Regions from separate parts of the Homo sapiens genome. Here region 2 is linked to region 1. Evidence: fine-mapped expression QTL. Tissue or cell type: whole blood. Region 1 holds a variant in brackets; the other region holds the start of a gene. All regions are shown on one strand. Distances are from middle to middle. Region 1 overlaps LOC101929028 (a long non-coding RNA gene). Region 2 holds the start of MSR1 (macrophage scavenger receptor 1).

Region 1 (10,121 bases):
GGAAAAAGATTTCTAGGGAATTCTCGTTTATATCAAGTGATCAAAGAGAAACCCAATGAGATAGGACATCAGAACAGAGATTGGAAAAAGTAAAGGAGCAAACCATGTGAATTTCTAGAAGGAATATTTTCCACGCTGAGGGAAAACAAAGTGAAAAGACTGAGAGGTTTCCACAATCCCTGTGTTTTCAAAGGTCAACAAGAATGCCAGTGTTGGAGTTGAGAGAAAAAGGAGAACATTTGAAAATGAGGCTTTCCATCTGGGATTCTCAAATGCTATTTTAAATCCAATATTTCTTTGATGTAACGGGGTAACCTGGACATTCTAGGATATTTAGCAACATCCGTGGACTCCATTCACTGGATGGTAGCAACATCCACAGCCCCCCAACTCCCTACCCCCATTGCCACCCAGTAATGATCATCAAAAATTATCACATTTTCCCTGGGGGAGCAAAATCAGCCAGCAATTGAAAACTGCTGTTCTAGAGGTAGCAAAAACAAGATTGTGCGAAGTGTTATGCGCCATATTCAAATATTTGCCTTTACCTTGAGTAAAACGTATGCCAATGTAAGACACTCAGCACAGAATTAACATGAACTTCAGTTATGAAAATCATTCCTGCTTTTGTGTTGAGAATAGGCTACAGGATAACAAGACAGAAATAGCACAGTAATCCAAGCAGGAGATAAAAGTTGTTCAGATCTGTACGACAGAAGTGGAAGTGATGAGAAGTGGTCACATTCTGGAAGGTCACCAGATTTCCCAGCATATTGTAATGGGTGTGAGAAAAAGATAGCAATCAAGGATAATTCCAATGTTTTGGGAACATTAGACTTGCTATGAACTGAGATACAGAAGGCTAAAATTGGAATGGGCTCTGAGAGAAAGAAAAAAGGAAAAAACAGTCATTAAGACTAAAAAGGTGTTGACACGGATGTGTTTAAAAGGGAACACTTCCACACTGCTGGTGGGAATGTAAACTAGGACAGTTACTATGGAAAACAGGGCAGAAATTCCTTAAAGAACTAAAAGTAGAAATACCGTTTGATCCAGCAATCCCACCACTGGTTATCCACCCAGAGGAAAGTAAGTCATTATACGAAAAAGATAATTGCAAACACAAGTTTAGAGCAGCACAACTTGAAATTGCAAAAATATGGAACCAGCCCAAATGTCCATCAATCAACAAGTGGATAAAGAAACTATGGTGTATATATAATACTACTCAGCCATAAAAACGAATGAATTAATAGCATTTGCAGCAACCTGGATGGAATTGGAGACCACTATTCTAAGTGAAGTAACACAGGAATGGAAAACCAAACATCGTATGTTCTTACTCATAAGTGGAAGCTAAGTTATGAGGATACAAAGGCATAAGAATGATACAATGTACTTTGGGGATTTAGGGGGAAGTGTGGGAAGGGAGTGAGGGATAAAAGGCTATAAATTGGGTTCAGTGGATACTGCTCAGGTGAGGGTTGCACCAAAATCTCACAAATCACCCCTAAAGAACATACTCACGCAACCATATACCACTTGTTATTCAAAAACCTATGGAAATAAAAAACTTAAAAATTAAAATTAAAAAGGTGTGCTACAGAGAAGGAGGAAAACCAAATGAGTGTTGTATCCAGGGAGGCAAACGATGAAAGAGTATTAGGGAGTAGAGAATAAATAACTCCACCAAATCCTTCTGACAAATAAGAGGAAAACTGGGAATGGCATTGGACTTAACAATATGAAGGTTACTTTTGTCAATGCTAAGAGGATTTTTGATGGAGCGATGGGTGCAAAAGCCAAAATGGAGTGCATTAAAACCGACTTTCCCCTAGTGTTCTATTATTGGAATGCTAAGGATGTGGGAGTTATTCATATCCTACTGCTCAAGATCATCGCTGAGGTCTGGGAAGGGGAGGGGAGTGGAGGGGAGGGAAGGAGAGGAGAGTGGAGGGGAGGGGAGGGGAGGGGAGGGGAGAGGAGAGGAGAGGAGAGGGGAGGGGAGGGGAGACGACAGGAGAGGAGAAGAGAGGAGAGGGGAGGGGAGGGGAGACGAGAGGAGAGGATAGGAGGGGAGGGGAGGGGAGACGAGAGGAGAGGAGAAGAGAGGAGAGGGGAGGGGAGGGGAGACGAGAGGAGAGGAGAGGAGAGGAGGGGAGGGGAGGGGAGGGGAGGGGAGAGGAGAGGAGAGGAGAGGAGAGGAGAGGAGAGGAGAGGAGCTATATTTGACAAATTACCTAACTACACCCTAAGCAAATGTTTTGAATCCTTGAAGGCAGAGATGTTCATTGGCATTTTTTCCTTTGTAACTATACAATAATGCTTGGAAGAGAGTAGGTGCTCCGTAAATAAGTATAGCCTTTGAAGATATCCCATAATTCCTATTTTATAAAAATATATGCCGTAGAAATAGTCACAGAAATGTTTATAGTTGTACGTTGAATTCTCAGTGTTTTACAATTTTAGTATTTTGGCAACAAGGCCAGCCACAAATTATATCAAGATCATTTAATTGGTGTCATATCATCTTAAATAAGAGCACAAAACATAGAGAAATTATTTTCTAATCAGTTGTAACTTGGTAAACTATCTCGAAATTATTATTCAGAAAGATGAGAAAAAGACCAGGAAACCCAAGGAAACACAAGTGAGAATACGTAGAGACTAACGGGAAAGAATAAACATGTAAAAGATGAAAAAAATGAACTAAAGGATGGAAAACAAATGAGTTATTTAGAAGAAAGTTATGGCAAAATCAGAATAACTGAAGCCGTGAATAAATTTAAGACAAGTAGAGTGACAGCAGGAATACTTCCAATATATCTAATAATCAGGAACACATTGAAAATGAAGGAACAGTTGCCTTGGACAAAAAAAAAAAAAAAAAAAAAGCTTACCTTTGAAGATTTGGCCATCTTAGAATCATATGTCTGGATTACTGAAGTGGAGGAACTAGCATGCTAGAAGTATACTTCAGGATAATTCATATCCCCTTATATTTAGTCATGATATATACTTGAATCTGAACCTGAGTATAAGATTTTTTTAAACAACTTAAGACTAAAATAATAAAGTAATGCTGTTATGCATATAAAAAATGAAATGTTATAGCAATTGCATTTAGTTTGTTGGTTTCTCAGGGAACTATAGACAAGTACAGAAAAACGCTTTGATTCTTAATTTGTAATATGTGCTGATTATTATTTTATTCAATTTTACTAATATGCTGTAATTAAACCAACAGCAAACCTAAGTATACTATTTATGATTCCACCTTTTTGGAAGAGGGCTTAGTCGTGTGGACTTAGGATAAGTCATGGCAAAGAAATGGAATTGTGCCACACAGTTGTATCATCAAATGCAATTTTCAAAGTACACAGTAAATCACATACCTGAATTTTGTTCTCAAATACTGGGCAGAACAGCACTATCAAACACAAGAGTCACAGAAACAACTCCACACAGTCCACAGATGTAAATAGGAATAAGAGTCATATTAAAATCTCATGCCCTATTCAGGCCTTTGGCTATGAAGTTAACCCCCAAATCACCTACTATTTGTATCTCAGTATGGCCATACTATTCTTACTTTCTATTCTATATGCACTAACACTTATAAAAATAATTTTTAATTAAAAATAGCTGTCCTTGTGAAAGGCATCTATTTCTGTTTTAAAAAATCAACTCCTAGTGCTGATGACTGAAGTAAGAAAATAGTTAAATCTGAGAAAGTGATGATGTTTAGGTGGAAAACATCCTAGGGTTAAAACAATACAATGAAATATTATATTCTACAGTGGTTTCAATTAATAATCTAAATGAACTCATTTTTTCTGACCTATACAGAGACAAACAAGAAAGTTTATAAAACATCAGTACTTTTGGGGAAAACTTTATGCTACATGAATTCTTGTTTGTTTGTTTGTTTTGAGATGGAGTCTCGCTCTGTTGCCCAAGCTGGAGTCCAGTAGCGTGATCTCAGCTCACTGCAACCTCTACCTCCCAGGTTCCAGCAGTTCTCCTGCCTCAGCCTCCTGAGTAGCTGGGATTACAGGTGCACACCACCACCCCCAGCTGATTATTATTTTTTTTTTTTTTTTTTTTTTTTTTGTATTTTTAGTAGAGACAGGATTTCACCATGTTGGCCAGACTGGTCTCAAACTTCTAACCTCAAGTGATCTGCCCACCACATGAATTCTTAAAGGTGTGTCTTAAGAAACTGTCAGAGTTCTACTGTACCAACAATTTCCAAGGAGTATTAATCATTGAGGTTAAAGAATGTGCCTACATATTCAATTGAGCTTATTTAGAAACGCCTGTTTTCAGAACAATGATCTCCACATGCTATAAGGACTGTGTGGAATTGTTTCTGAGAATCCCGTGTTTGATTAGTGCTCTTCTGCCCAATATGTGAGAACACAATTCAGGTATGTGATTTGCTGACTACTTGGAAAATTACATTTTGATAGTGCAACTCTGCAGGCAATCCCATTTCTTTTCTAGAGTGCTTCCATAATAAATATGTTCTGGTGTTTCACTAACTCTCATAGGTGTCATTTCTATCACTACATTTGTGTTTCTAAGATTGAGCTATTGAAGTAGTGTTTACACTACTTCTTCCACATGGTTTCCTATCTAATATGAATGATAACTGAAGTAGCTATGTCTACAATAGATCATTGACATTTTTTCTCCCAAAGGATTATCTGTTTGAGTTTTTCAAAATGATGTTTTCTGAATCCACACCTGATACTGCCTGGGTAACAACTTAATTCACAGTACACCAAGAGAATGTCTCCCTTTTTGTATCTCCAACTGTATTTGCTTCACTTTAAAGTAGTATCGTGTTTTGTATTATTATTATTTTAATTTAATGAAAGAATAAGAAATCATTAAAGTTTGAATAAATTAAAATATTCAGGTGCCATACACTTATATTGCTCCTGGATAAGAAAAATAATGTTTAAAGTTTTTTATGCCAATGCAAAGAAGGAGAAGGAAAGTTACATGTTAGGAGAATCTGTTCTGTCTGTGGTTGTTAACCCTCTCAATAAAGCTACAAGGTAGCATTAGTTTCTTCATTTCACCAAAAGTCACAAGGCTAAGTACCTAGTATATGGAAAATTTCAAACTCAAAGTGGAATTTGAAATAATGTTCCTATGGTTCCAAAGGCTGTCACTTTTTTAGTATGCTGTATTCTTTTCTATACAACTATTTCACTTTCATTATAAGAAAATTCAGCCTGAAGTACATACGTTAACTTATCCATTTAAACACATTATCACATAATTTTTTGTATCTGAAAAAAAAATGTAGCCCATATAATACTGAGAATGAAGATTTAAAGAATGCCTTTCTGAATCCAATAACCAGAATATTGAATATTCACTAAAAATCCCAGTAAGCCTGTTTTATAGGTGAAAACTCTTGTAGCATGTTGGCATGGTTTACTTTCAGAACTATTCTTCACAAGGAATGCTTGAATGACACAAATAATACTAATATTAGTACACAGGTATTAATACTATTAATAATGTTAATATATCATTTTATATAAGCTTTACATTAATAATATTAGTACTGATGCACTAATGTTAATAATATAACAAGTAGTTAAGTACAAACAATCTCAAATGATCTTGAACTCTTGCTACAGAGGTAATATGATAAATTCTGGCCTTTACCGTGTTGTCATGGGGAACTTACTGGCTTTCAATATGAAGCAACTCTGAGTTTTTAATTATCTCATTTACAAAGGAAGATTTACAATGAAGTTATGATCATATATTTGTGGACACTTTCTAAAACTAAGAAATATTAAATTCAATGAAGATTACTGTCACTTTCTATGCCAATCTCTATCTCTACCACCACCCTACAAAAATACATATAATTATACTATAATATTGAGGCTACAGGCATGTTTGATAATTGGGTTAAGGTACAACTGTATTGGTGATATATTTTGTTTGGTTGAGTGAATCAGGCTAGGGGCAGAATATAGGTTTCTGATACATAGGACAAACATCTTTTTTCTATTCTATCTCACTTTTCAAACATGTTTGGTAAATTTTATCAAAATTATACTGGTAGGTCAAGTAGGAAATAGCAGTCAGACAATATATACTTATCTTTTTAAATAGTTTCCCCATGTTAGAGCTTCCCATTCTCTATATTTTATGGAAAGTTTTTGTTATTCCCAACGGTGATGAGGTGAGCAGTGTTTGTATTTTGAAATATGAGGTTAGACTAGGCAAAA[C/A]GATTAGGTCAGTGGTAGTTTTACTGAAGGCAGAAAAAAATCTAAAAAATTATAAATATGTATTCAGCTGAGACCTCATCAGAATGATATATTGTTAGTTGTAAAGATATGATACTTTATAAAAAAGACATTGATCATCTTGTGAAACAAATGAACTTAAATTGCCATCTAGTTTATTGCTGGAGAGATAATTTCTTTGACATTAGTTTAACTTTCATGCTCCATTTATACTTATAAAAGCTTTTAAGAGACCAAAACAGATTCTCATTGTCTACCTAAACGCAGTGATATTGGCAACAATTATGCTCTTCTAAAATGAACAGTCAAAAAGATATGCAATTAATATGGATTTTAACAAAGATATTGGCAAATGTATTTTTTAAAAACAAAAATCTCATTACCTTAACGATTGTATTGAGCAATTCACTTTCCAAGATGTCATATATTTGAGATTACCTATTCTTAGCACAGTTCTTCCAGTCTACCTCAGAAATAAAATAAAAACTTTTTATCTTATTTTCTAAAATCTGTATTATTCTTGTGACTGTTATCTGCTCAAGATTACATCATTTTTTCTGCATAAAAGCCAGTTTCCAGTAAGTATACGGAACTTAGTATTAAAGCTAGTCATTTCACATTACATTTGAATTATGCTTAATTTCTAAAGTATTTCAACATATTATCTCTCTTGATATTATAAATATATCAAGGGTTAGCTCAGATTGTTATCACTCTACAATGGCAGAATCACGACTCCAAGTTTTTATTGTCTGGTCATGTTTACTATTTTCACAATTGCAAATAATGCCTCAAATACTAGTAGATTTGCACATACATTACAGAAACAACTATGATAAAGACTGGGACGAATTGGAATAATTCTAATGCTGTAAGTTTTAAATAATAAAATTTGTTATTTTATTATAAAAACAAAGGAGTCTTTCTTACATATAGAGTATTGTTATGAACACAGACTGATACACAATTAAAATATGCAATTTTATAACTAAATAGGTACATCATCAAGGCAACTATAGTGTTCCCTTTGAGTGAAGAGAAAAAGAAGGAAAAACGCATTTAAAACATTGCCTGTAGGTGTCTTTGTTACTTAAAAGTTTCAAGAGCCTTCCTAATAGCATGCTTCCAAGATACTCAAAGAATTTCTTAATTAAAATTGTATTGATGTATTCTATCTGCAGAGATAATTAAATACAACACTAGTTTTCTCTTGCAAAAACACATTTGTCTTGCCAAGAAAGTAATTGAGAAATAGAGTCGAGTGACTCAACCTTGATACGGAAACTTTTGCCAGAAAAGTTTCTTCTGTTAAGAAAAGTCTGAGGATTAGCCACTGCTATATAGTTTGATCTAATTTCTTTTTGTCTTAATTGAATGTGAAAAATAATGGCATAATAAAACAAATGCATATTTCTCCCCATTAGTTCACGACATACAAAAGAAGTTAAGCCAAGTCAGATTTTGAAGTCAACTGAGAGCCGATGCCTTATTCACCGGTAGCATTCATCTGTTTCATCATGATGCTCTCTTTCTCTGTTTTTCTGTTTCATCATGATGCTCTCTTTCTCTGTTTTGAACAGTCACTGAACTATTAAGTTGGACTTTTTCATTTTAAAATACAAGTTACTCTCTCATGCCTGCATCCCAATGATAATTATTGCTCTGAAGGAGCAGTTCCAATTAAAAGATGTGCTGTTCATTCATTATCGCTGAGTTACTGTGATAACATCCCAGTTACTGGAGCTTACAGTTGCAAGGTTACAATAGAAAACAGTGGAAAGGAAATTCTAGGGAACCCATCAGCCCAGATTTACGCAAAAAATGTATTTATTGCTACGCAATATATAATATCCTTTAAATCCTTAAACCCAAACAAAGATTTAGAAAAAAAATATGATTTTGTTAGAGAGCACAGCACATTGACTCAAATTTTCAAAAGCCTTACTATCTCAGCACCAAATAACTTCAGATGAAGTTAAAGAAGGCTATCTAAGAGCAAATATGATCCAAAGGCTTCATTCTGATGCCTTAGTGAGAAAAAAAGCAGGAACTCAACCTCTACCCAGGCCCTAAGCACTTCAGAATACTGACAGTGGTTGAGGTATTTGAGGATAGAGGTCCAAGAAAGAACCATCCAGTCGTGAGGAAGATGACCTCCATCCAGTAAGTGAGCAAATTCCCACCTCCAAGAGTTTACAGGTTCAGCATTTGTGACATGTCCCAGTGGAAACGTGAAAAATATAAAGTTGTGAAACATTCTTACAGTGCAGTGACTTTCAGAATGACAATTAGGACCTCAAAAATCTGCTTATCTGTAATGCAATGATAGAGCACTTGCAAAAACTGTCTAAATTACCTTTTTTTGAAATTCCAGAAGTTAACCCAAAACTTCCATCACTCTGCAGGGAATTTCTTCAAGGAAAATAGCTGAACCTCAGTAAAAAACAGAAAGGCTTGTACCATTTTATTTTATTTATTTATTTATTTATTTATTTATTTTTATTTTATTTTATTTTTTTTTTTCTGAGAAGAGTTTCACTCTTGCTGCCCAGGCTGGAGTGCAATGGCACAATCTCCGGTTCACTGCAACCTCTGCCTCCTGGGTTCAAACAATTCTCCTGCCTCAGCCTCCCTAGCAGCTAGGATTACAGGCATGTGCCACCACACCCAGCTAATTGTGTATTTTTGGTAGAGACGGGGTTTCTCCATGTTGGTCAGGGTGGTCTCAAACTCCCAACCTCAGGTGATCTGCCCGCTTCGGTCTCCCAAAGTGCTGGGATTACAGGCATGAGCCACCGCCCTCCGCTGGCTTGTACCATTTTAACCTGCCCTATTCTCATCTCATTTTTGTCGGTTCCACAATAACCTTGAACACCAGCAGCTTCACAGCCATGGTAGTGAAACCAAGCAGCCCAGTAGCTACTAGAAACAGTTAACTGGATTTGGATCTCCTCACAATGCTTGTCCCCACATATATAATCTGTCTGGCAGCTCCTTGGGAAATCTCCATTAGCAAGGCTTTTCTTTATTTCACCTCATCCAGTGTTCAACAGGAAAAGTCTTGTCTCCAGAACATTTGTTGAAACTAATTGCCTAACATGGCAACTGCCTGAGGCCAAGATAACAATTGAGGCAAACAAGAGGTTGGGCAAAAAGGAAGATGAGAATGAGATGTTCCTAGTGGGCTTGGAAAAGCTTCAATGTATTACTGGGGATCTAGAAGGCCCCATGCATGTGCAAAGCTGTGCATGTGCCCAGGAAAACCTAGAAAGGTCCTAATCTCTAAGCAGAAAGTAAAGGCTGAGGCACAGCTTTAAACTGCTTGAATGCTAAAGGCATGCCCTAATACATACAGAGCTCCTCTGCAAAGGGTAGGATACGTTGTTTGAAGAAAAAATCAATTTAAGAAAATCTCTGTCCTATCATTAGCTGACCAGTAAACTAACCAAGCCATGACTTCAGTGCTGTTCATGACAGAAAATAGAGACTTTGCAGAATTCATACAGCAAAGCTGCTACACGAAGAGGATCAAAAATATCAGATGACAAAAACAACATCCCTGGGGAAGGTAGAGAATCTGATTTCCACAATTATTATATTATAGAATGTCCAGTTTTCAACAAGGTTATAAGACACAAAGGGAAAAAATGTAGTCAGTAAAAACTGTCGCTAAGGAAGCCTAGATATTGTATTTACTAAACAAACACTTTAAGTCAGTTATTGTAAATATGTTGAAAGAACTAAAAGAATCCTTGTCTAAATAACTAAAGGAAAGTATGAATTGTGTCTTAGCGAATAGAGAATATCATTAAAGACACAGAAATTATATTTTAAAAATAG
Region 2 (10,121 bases), 370 kb before region 1:
TGATGTGGACTTTTGATCTCTTTGGTTCAGGGATCAGAGAGTTCCTGAAGGTGCTCATTACATACATAATGCCGTATTTAAAATTACATAAATAAATGAAAGGCAAGATATTTTTCAAGATGACTGGATTTTATATCTTAGGTTATGCCTCAAGAAAACTTTGTGGTTCACTAAAGTAGGGATTTTAAAAATTCTTCTGTTACATATTGGAAAATAAAATATTTCTCTCTGCACTGCACGTAACTAGCAAACTGAAACAAAAAATATTACCCTCAGTGAACCCACTTTGCTTCAAAAGCATTTATTATTAAAATTACCAGATTATTTCAGCTGCTTACTCTGGTTATAATCATTGTAATTTTTTAGTAACGTGAACATACATACTTGCATGAGCCTTCATTAGCAGGCAGTGAACAACTCACACTGTTCAAGTGTGCCTTTTAATATCAGTTCCACAGTTAGGACAAAAAGTAGCTTCACATAAAGTTACTCTTCCTATTAAATGTCAGTGTGCTGATAAACGATTGTAAAATCCTTGGAGTTTGTGTAATCTATTAAAAGCACGTGCTCATGAGAAGTGAAACACGTTTCTGTAATATCAGCATTTTATCAAGTGGATGAAAAGTTTACAGGAAATTCATAATGAAAGAATTTCAAGGTTAATTTGTTGGGAACCATATACCTTACTTTTTTGTTTTTATTATAAAACATTTTAATAATATTATAGATATGTTAGGATGAAATTTCTGTCATCTCATCACCCTAATAAAGGAAAAAAACCCTTAATTTTTTAAATGAAACTCGAGTCTTTGGATGTATGTATACCTGTAACATAGTTCATATCATCATGCACGTATCATTTGGTATTACGCGTTTTCCTTAAAATCACCTCATTATTTTAATATTTCAAACGAATTTTTCAAACTTGAAATTTTTTTTATTATTCTTTAGGTTCTGGGATACACGTGCAGAACGTGCAGGTTTGCTACATTGGTATACATATGCCATGGTGGTTTGCTGCACCCATCAGCCCATCATCTAGGTTTTAAGTCCCACATGCATTAGGAGTTTGTCCTAATGCTATGCCTCCCCTTGCCTCCCACCTACTGACAGGCCCCGGTGTGTGATGCTCCCCTCCCTGTGTCCACGTGCTCTCACTGTTCAACTGTCACTTATGAGTGAGAACATGCAGTGTTTCTTTTTCTGTTCCTCTGTTAGTTTGCTGAGAATGATGGTTTCCAGCTTCATCCATGTCCCTGCAAAGGACATCAACTCATCTTTTTTATGGCTGCATAGTAGTCCATGGTGTATATATGCCACATTTTCTTTACCCAGTCTATCACTGAGGGACATTTGGGTTGGTTCCAAGTGTTTGCTACCTAATAATTCAACACACATACATATATATATATATATATATATATATATATAAAACAACATATATATATGTGTTGAATTATTATGTAGCAAAGACTTGCTTATATATATAAAACCTTATTTTACATATATTTCATATATACGCAAAACCTTATTTTACATATATTTCATATATACGCAAAACCTTATTTTACATATATTTCATATATACGTAAAACCTTATTTTACATATATTTCATATATACGTAAAACCTTATTTTATATATATTTCATATATGTAAAATCTTATTTTATATATATTTAGATATAATCTTATTTTATTTATATTTCAAATATATAAAATCTTATTTACATTTCATATATATATAAAATCTTATTTACATTTCATATATATATAAAATCTTATTTTATATATTTTTATATATATTTTATATATATAAAATCTTATTTTATATATATTTTATATATATTTTATATATATAAAATCATATTTTATATATATAAAATCTTATTTTATATATATTTTATATATTTTATATATAAAATCTTATTTTATATATATTTTTATATATAAAAAATCATATTTTATATATATTTTATATATTTTATATATATGAAATCTTATTTTATATATATTTTATATATATTTTATATATATATAAAATCTTATTTTATATATATTTTATATATATATAAAATCTTATTTTATATATATTTTATATATATATAAAATCTTATTTTATATATATTTTATATATATATAAAATCTTATTTTATATATATTTTATATATATATAAAATCTTATTTTATATATATTTTATATATATATAAAATCTTATTTATACAGCCATTTTTCTAAATAAAAAATACAGCCATTTTTCTAAAATATAATTTTTTCTTTTAAACTTTTTTTCCTTTTCCCAGGGGGCAATGCTTCACTGATATAAATAATGATGTTATAAATATTTCCTTTTTTTTTTTTTTTTTGAGATTGAGTCTTGCTTTGTCACCCAGGCTGGAGTGTAATGGTGTGATCTCAGCTGACTGAAACCTCTGCCTCCTGGGTTCACGTGATTCTCCTGCCTCAGCTTCCCGAGTAGCGGGATTATAGGCGTTTGCCACCATGCCCAGCTCATTTTTGTATTTTTCACCGCGTTCATCCAGCTGGTCTCAAACTCCTGACCTCAGGTGATCCACCCTCCTTGGCCTCCCAAAGTGCTGGGATTACAGATGTGAGCCACTGCCCCGGCCATTATTTTCATAATTTAGCTTTCTTCTTTTAAAATGTTTCTTTAGGATAATTCATCATATGTGAAACTAAAAAGTGAAAGGAAAACTATTTTGAACTTCTTGGGCTCTACTGTCTTAGTGATCTTTAAAAAGATAACATAAATTTATAAATATTCCAGACTTATATGTGAATATGGCAGTTTCAAGCAAAATTCACTACCATTGAATAATAAAGCTTATTTTAGAATCATTTAGATTTTGATAAGAGTTAAATAATACCTAAAAGTGGTTTTCATTTTTATTTTTTATTATTAATGTAAGAGAGAGATTTCACTGTAATTGTCTGTCATACATTGTTCTTCTTGGGTTATTATCTATTCATATTCACTGCTTATACATCCCCACAGGTTTCTTTTACCTAAGCATGTGAATCAGCTCTTTATGTTTAATACATATTTACCATCTGTCTTTTCATACTTGACATGCATTCGTTTTCCTAAGATTTTTCCCTATTTAGTTTTTTTATCATATTCTTTCTTTTTTCTTTCTTTCTTTTTGTTTTTGAGATGGAGTTTCGCTCTTGTTGCCCAGGCTGGAGTGCAATGGCGTGATCTTGGCTCACCACAACCTCCGCCTCCTGGGTTCATGTGATTCTCCTGCCTCAGACTCCGGAGTAACTGGGATTACAAGCATGCACCACCACGCCCGGCTAATTTTGTATTTTCAGTAGAGACAGGGTTTCTCCATGTTGGTCAGGCTGGTCTTGAACTCCCGACCTCAGGTAATCCACCTGCCTTGGCCTCCCAAAGTGCTGGGATTACAGGCGTGAGCCACCGTGCCCGGCCCATCATATTCTTAAGGCCAACTTTATCTTCAACATTTGGAATAAATAATAAGCTTGTGATCCTCCTTATTATATAAAATAATAACTTTGATTTTTGTAACAGCAGTTGAATGTGTATATAAAATGAAAATTAAATTAAGATTATTTGTGAAACTAACAGCTTTATGCTTAAGGAACCCGTCTGTAAGACAGATTTTAGTAAGAAATGGAAATATTTATATTGTGCCTGATGTCACTGATATTCATCCTTGGTAGCAAAGAAGAAAGAGCATCAACTTTTGAATCTGAAATCTAGATTTGAGTATTGACTGTGACATCATTTAGCTGTGTGATCTTAGGCAAATATTTTAACTTATTTGAATTGAACTTTCTTTAGATATGTAAAATATGATCACAATATAAATTTAAAGAATTATTGCGAGAATTAAAAATAATTTTTGTAAATTGCCTGGTACACAGAAAACCATCAATATATGAATCCCTGTTATTTTAAAATATCACTTTTTTTTTAAATATGAGCTTTTCTTATTTTGTTCTCACGGAATCTTCATGAGGTACAAGTAGTATTTTCTCCATTTTACAGGTTAGGGAACTGAAATGTGTAAGTAACTAGTCAAGTTACTCAACTAGGGAGCAGGGGAGCTGGAATTTGAACACAGGCAGTCTACTCCCAGAAGATTAGCTCTTACCCACTGCATAAAACGGCTAATCACTGCATAAAACATCTGTAATCTCAGTTCTATGGTTTTTCTATAAGTATTTTTACCTGGTCAGTGCAAATGCCAACCTCCCATTATATGCTGTGTGAATCTTACTTAGTCTTCAAGATTAATCAGATTTCTAGCATCTCCATGAAGATTTATTTTTGATAGACTTTTTTCACATAGAAGTAATTTTGGCCTCGCCTATATTTTCATAGTAATTATCTATAGCATTTTCATACTACTTAAGGTGCTAGTAATTATCTATAGTACTTTCATACTACTTAAGGTGCTCAAATTACATTATGCCTATTTGGGGATATGTTTTAAATCATAAGATTCCGGAGCACAAAAAGAACTATATCTTATTTTTTGTATCCTTTCCCCACATCTAGTTCAATGAAGTGCATATAGTAGATACCCAGCCAATATTTGCTATATAATCAAGGGAAGATAATAAAAGGCATTAGATTAAAGCCAAAAATGTTCCATGAAAAGTTATGAAAGGAGAATAGGTGAAATATGTCAAATTATACTTTGAATAAAACCAGTATTTTAAACAAAATATGCTTAATTATATGAAAAAACCCCATTGCTGGTTCAAACTACAAAGCATTTAGTGTATTTCATATGTACTTGTGAACATATATGTTTTTCACTCATGGAAAATTTAGCAGAAATCCCTATTTTTTGATTATCGAAAAAAACCAAACCAAATTATTGCTGATACAATAAAGCATTCATCTCATCATACACACACAGACACACAAATATATATCACACACATGCATGCACACACACACACAGAGTACACACATAACAATCAATAGAAACAATTCTGGAAAAAACATTAAAATAAGCCTTTTTTTTTCTTTACCTTTCGTCCTAAAGAAAGCAGCACTGATTTATCCACTTCTCTCTCTTTACAATTGAAACCTAAAATCTTTATCTCATAGTATTTCAGCATCTGGTACATGAAGAAAGGAAATGACACATTCCTGCGTTGAAAATCTTTCTTAATGTGTTTCAATAGCACTCTCATCAATGCACAGGTTTGCAAAATCTAAATTTGTCAGATAACTCACTCTTCACCCCATTTAGGCCGCTTTAAAAAAAAAAGAGAAGTGAAAAGGAAAAGAAACAAGGGTTGTTGAAACAAGCACATAATTTACAGCAGATTGAGCTTTCCTTTTTTTTTGGAGATGGAGTCTCGCTGTCTCACCAGGGTGGAGTGCAGTGGTGTGATCTCCGCTCACTGCAACCTCTGCCTCCCAGGTTCTACAGGCGTGTGCCATCACACCCGGCTAATTTTTTGTATTTTAGTAGAGACAGGGTTTCGCCATGTTGGTCAGGATGGTCTTGATCCCCTGACCTCATGGTCCGCTCGCCTTGGCCTCCCAAAGTGCTGGGATTACAGGCGCGAGCCACCGTGCCCAGCCTGATCTTTCCTTTTTTATAAGTAATCTATGCCTTCTAAAACATACATTAATTCTCATGATCTCCTCTTTCACGTTACTATAATGTTGAGTAAAGACTCCATGTTTGGCTAGGTGTGGTGGCTCATGCCTGTAATCCCAGCACTTTGGGTGGCCGAGGTGGCTGGATCACTTGAGGTCAGGAGCTCTAGAACAGCCTGGCCAACATGGTGAAACTAGTCTCTACTAAAAATACAAAAATTGGCCAGGCATGCGCCTGTAATCCCAGCTACTCGGGAGGCTGAGGCTGAAGAATTGCTTGAACCCAGGAGGCGGAGGTTGCAGTGAGCAGAGATCGCACCACTGCACTCCAGCCTGGGCAACAGAGTGAGACTCCACCTCAAAAAAAAAAAAAAAAAAAAAGACTCCATGTTTAGAGATTCGAGTTTTTTTCTTAGATCCTTTTTCCTGTACCTTTATCCCTAGCCTCAAACACAAAACACGTGAAGAAAGAATATGATGCCTTAGTAAGAACAAGTAATAACCTAAAAGCACTCACTCCTGTTCTCTCTATAATGATAATAGCATTAATTTTTAGAGCACCAGACAAGTTGTTTATTTCCAGTAGTATAGTAGAGGGAAGGAATCTCAGGCATGGATCAGATGAAAGGGATGTTCTTTCCCTTCTGCCATCCATCAGGGTTTTATACAATTCAACTCCGTTATTTACTCACATTCAAGAAGTTCAAGTATGACTCACATGAAAACGTTCAACATTACATTAATGAGCTAAGTTTTACAACTGATATTTCTGGGAGAAGGTGTTTAGCTTATATTCCGTAGTCACTCTTTTGTGCCCAAACAGGAGAAATCATGCTTCCTACCAAAAGATGCCCCAAATTGCTGTGCCCATGGGCACCATCCTTCAGAAGACAATACGTCTGCAAGAAAGTATGCGGGAACAGCGCACGGTCTTTGAGAGATGCAAAGTAACAGTATTATTCAGTTATTCTTAAGGTAACCACTAAAAGGCTAATAGTAGTAGTAGGACAGGCATCAAAGTAAGCTGCATAATTTCTAACCAGGCAGCTTGAAGACTAGAAGTACGATCACAATTTGATCCAGCCTGGACCAGCATAAATGCTATTGGCTATTCCTCATCAAATTCTTACTGACACAGAACTGGAGACTACAAAACTCACACTCTTTCCTTTACAATTATTTGTACATGCTTCTTATTTTAAAATATAGTCCTTTTAGGTTTTTTTGTACAAAATCTGAAGTTTAAAATTTAGATATCCCTGACAATGCTACGTGATTAGAAAAGTCAGACTCTGGGAATAACAAGACACCAATCTCCCAAAATTCTATCCTAATGAGGTTTCTTTCTGTCAGTGTGCTTTATTTTCAGTATGTCTCTGTAATACTGTTTGGTGTATATCCACAGTGCTGACCACTTCCCTATGTGATGATTTCCACACTCTTCAGCCAATCTAATTTTTCATTAAAAAACTTCCCTTTTTATATGTCTAAATAGGTACTATATAATTTTATATAGTTTTATATATAATAATTATAGATTATGTAACATAATATTATCTATTAGGTCTTACTATATGTAAAAACACCTTTAGCAGGGAACCATGTTAAAAATGTTCAGTTCAAGCCAATGATTAATTGAGAACAGAGGTAATATGTAAAGGGTTGGGATTTTGCATTCATTCCTTCATTTGACTTCACAGCAACTTTGTCATATCACTTCCCTAATTGAGAAATTAATGTTTAGAGATGGTAAGTAAATTTCTCGAGATCAGAGTTATGAGTCATCAGAGCTGGTATTTAAACCCAGTCTGATTACAAAATTTGGCAAAATATAGTTTTTTCTTAAGCTGAAGTAGGTATATGTATTATTAGGGGACTATAATATCTCCATCAAAAACAGTATACAGAAAACAAGCCACAAATATGGGCAAATTCCAGATCATGTGGATAGTTACTTTGTTCATAGTTATTGTGATGGATCCCAATTACTTTATTTTTGTTGCTTATGGATATATGTGTCTAGAATGAGGTCCATGTAAGATTATGCCCAGTGACCAAACAGAGATTCATAATCAAATAGGCAAATGGCTTGAGAGAATTGATTCAAATGTCCTAGGACTCACTGTGGTACAGGTATACTGAACTCAAAAGAAGAGTTAACATTTTACACTCATTAAGAGGTATTTTTGTATGTCTAAAGTTACAGCAGGTTGTTAGTCATAATATATAGTTAATACATTATGACTTATTTATTGTATGATATATATATGATAAAGTTTCGAGATAAAATTTTTCATGTTCTTAATTCAAAGCAATAAGTAAATAGTGATATAAATACAGATTTTAATAATGCTGCAACGGACACATATTGCTGTGGGATTATAAAGCATTTACAGAATTATCAAAACATTCTTTAATAAAATTGACATTGAAAAATTGCATATTGGCAGAGCTTTTTCTTTGATAATCATAAGCAGAAAACTGTGAAGGTACCAGTAACATTTTATATAGCCTTATTAAACAGAACTTTCCTATATGAGAATTATTGAAGTCAAATACAGAAACAGACCAAGGACAGTATCAGAATTGAATAGTATCTTCCTTCTATTAAACCTATAATAATATTTTGGCTTGCCCACACAATCTTAAATTGGTGGTGTTAGTTAAAATTTTAATTTTTTTGCGAGATTTTAAAATTTAATTAACATATGCATTATATTTCAAAAACTTGGTTAAGAACTGTAGGCTTACAGTGTTTAGGTCTAAATTCGTGTTTCTCTATTTTAACATAAAATTATAATAAAATAATATATCAACACTTAATAAGGTATAGAGATCAATATATTTATTTTCTTTTGAGAAACACTGCACTATGCCATACTGTCTATTTTTAAAAGAAAGTTCATGGAAGACTTCTAGTTGCAGCTTCAACATCTAAAGAGCTTGGAAGTCATCACTCATATCTCGACACCACGAAAAAAGCTGGAGAAACTAAAAATCAATGACGTCTTGGACCCATCAGAGAACTGAGGTCTCAAGGAAACTACCAGCCTGAAACCGGGAGAGAGAGGAGATTACAGAGCATCACAGCAGACACCAGATCACCTGCAGCTGATGCCAGTGGAACCACAAACTGGCAGGAACACCTAAGCAGGAATTTGGCAAGAGGCTGAGTATGGACCAGTGTGAGCACTGGAGCCTCCTGGGGGCTGCAGTCTTCAAGGCGCCCCCTAAACACTTACAGGCTTTACTTCCAGGAATACAACTTGGTTCTCACAGTATATACCAAAAAATATCACCTGATGTCCCTGGCAGAGAGAAGGGAAATCTAATGATTTTAAAATATACGTAGAGCATTTCCTGTAACAAAGGCTTACTCCCCAGTGAAAAGAGTTTATCAGAGCGTTATCTTAGCTAGGCAGCTGAAGGGTAACTATTCAATGCTCGCTCCCTCTAGTCTTCCAGCTGCAGTTCAACTTGGCAGAGAAAAAGGAAAAAAAAAAAAAAGTTTAGAAACGCTCATGAAGGTCACAGGTCACAGTCCGGGGACAAGGGCCCACTAAAAGACTGAGATTTAATCAGAAGACTATAGAACACCTCACCCCGCCCCCACATCTCACCCCTCCGTCAACAGAGCTCCCGTATGATAACAGTGGATGACAGGTGAAAGAGATGCAAGGTTTTTTTTGAAAGGGAAGTTTGTAGGGGAACCTAAATACAGTAGAGGCAACAAAGAGACACTACAGGTAATTTTAGCTTCTGACAGCTGTATCTACAGGAAATGTTAGACGTAACCCAGCTCCTAGCTAGATTAATATACAACCTCACACTAAAAGGCAAGTAAGCATACCTAAGACCCTAAAAGTCACACTGTCCTTAGACAGTTAGGGAAGTAGAATGGATAACATATGCCCAAAATACGAATGACTAATTTCCTTGCAAGATCAGCTGTCTCCTGCAAGCAACATTTGACAATTCACCCTTTCCTCGTGATGATGTCTTAACTAAGAAGATACAAAAATGCAAGGAAATGAAAGTGAATATGAGATCACTTTTATGTGCTATTTTAAAAACATAAATGCACATTGCACTGTGTTTAGGGAACTATGGCTTCAGAATTGTAGGAAAGACCCATGTAGTTTAAATGAGTTTCAAACTTGTAAAAGTGTCAATTAATTTAAGCCAGAGCAAAATGCATTAAGCAAATTCTTAACCAGAAGTCTGTGAAATCATGATGGAATGTCAGCCTAGGGGCCCAAATGAGAGAAAAGAATTTATGCTATAGCCAAAAGGATTGTTGCAAGGTGGATACCATTGACTTTATAGCAATTTCATATGCCCGATTGCCTTTTATTCTCATAGCAAACCCTCTTTATTTTGCAATGAGAAAACTTAAAGACTCTTGAATAAATTATCTAGGGCCACCTGGCTAGTGAGAGAGCATGAACTAGAATGTATGTTCTGTGATGTTCTAAGCCACATGGCTCACGTCGCCTTCATAAACATACATA

What was found. PIP is the estimated chance that this variant, and not a neighbour inherited with it, causes the effect.
Region 2: MSR1 starts here. The variant in region 1 is fine-mapped to the expression of MSR1 in whole blood (INTERVAL, PIP above 0.99).

The regions. Positions count from the first base shown.
Region 1 is chr8:16,552,637-16,562,757 of GRCh38, forward strand. All of the region lies in intron 6 of LOC101929028 (a long non-coding RNA gene), which reads right to left. Among named protein-coding and RNA genes, the nearest start is that of MSR1, 370 kb to the left of the region's middle. The variant C/A (reference allele first, on the strand shown) is at 6,264.
Region 2 is chr8:16,187,568-16,197,688 of GRCh38, forward strand. MSR1 (macrophage scavenger receptor 1) reads right to left here and starts at 5,084. Exons shown (of 10, transcript NM_138715.3): 1 at 5,031-5,084.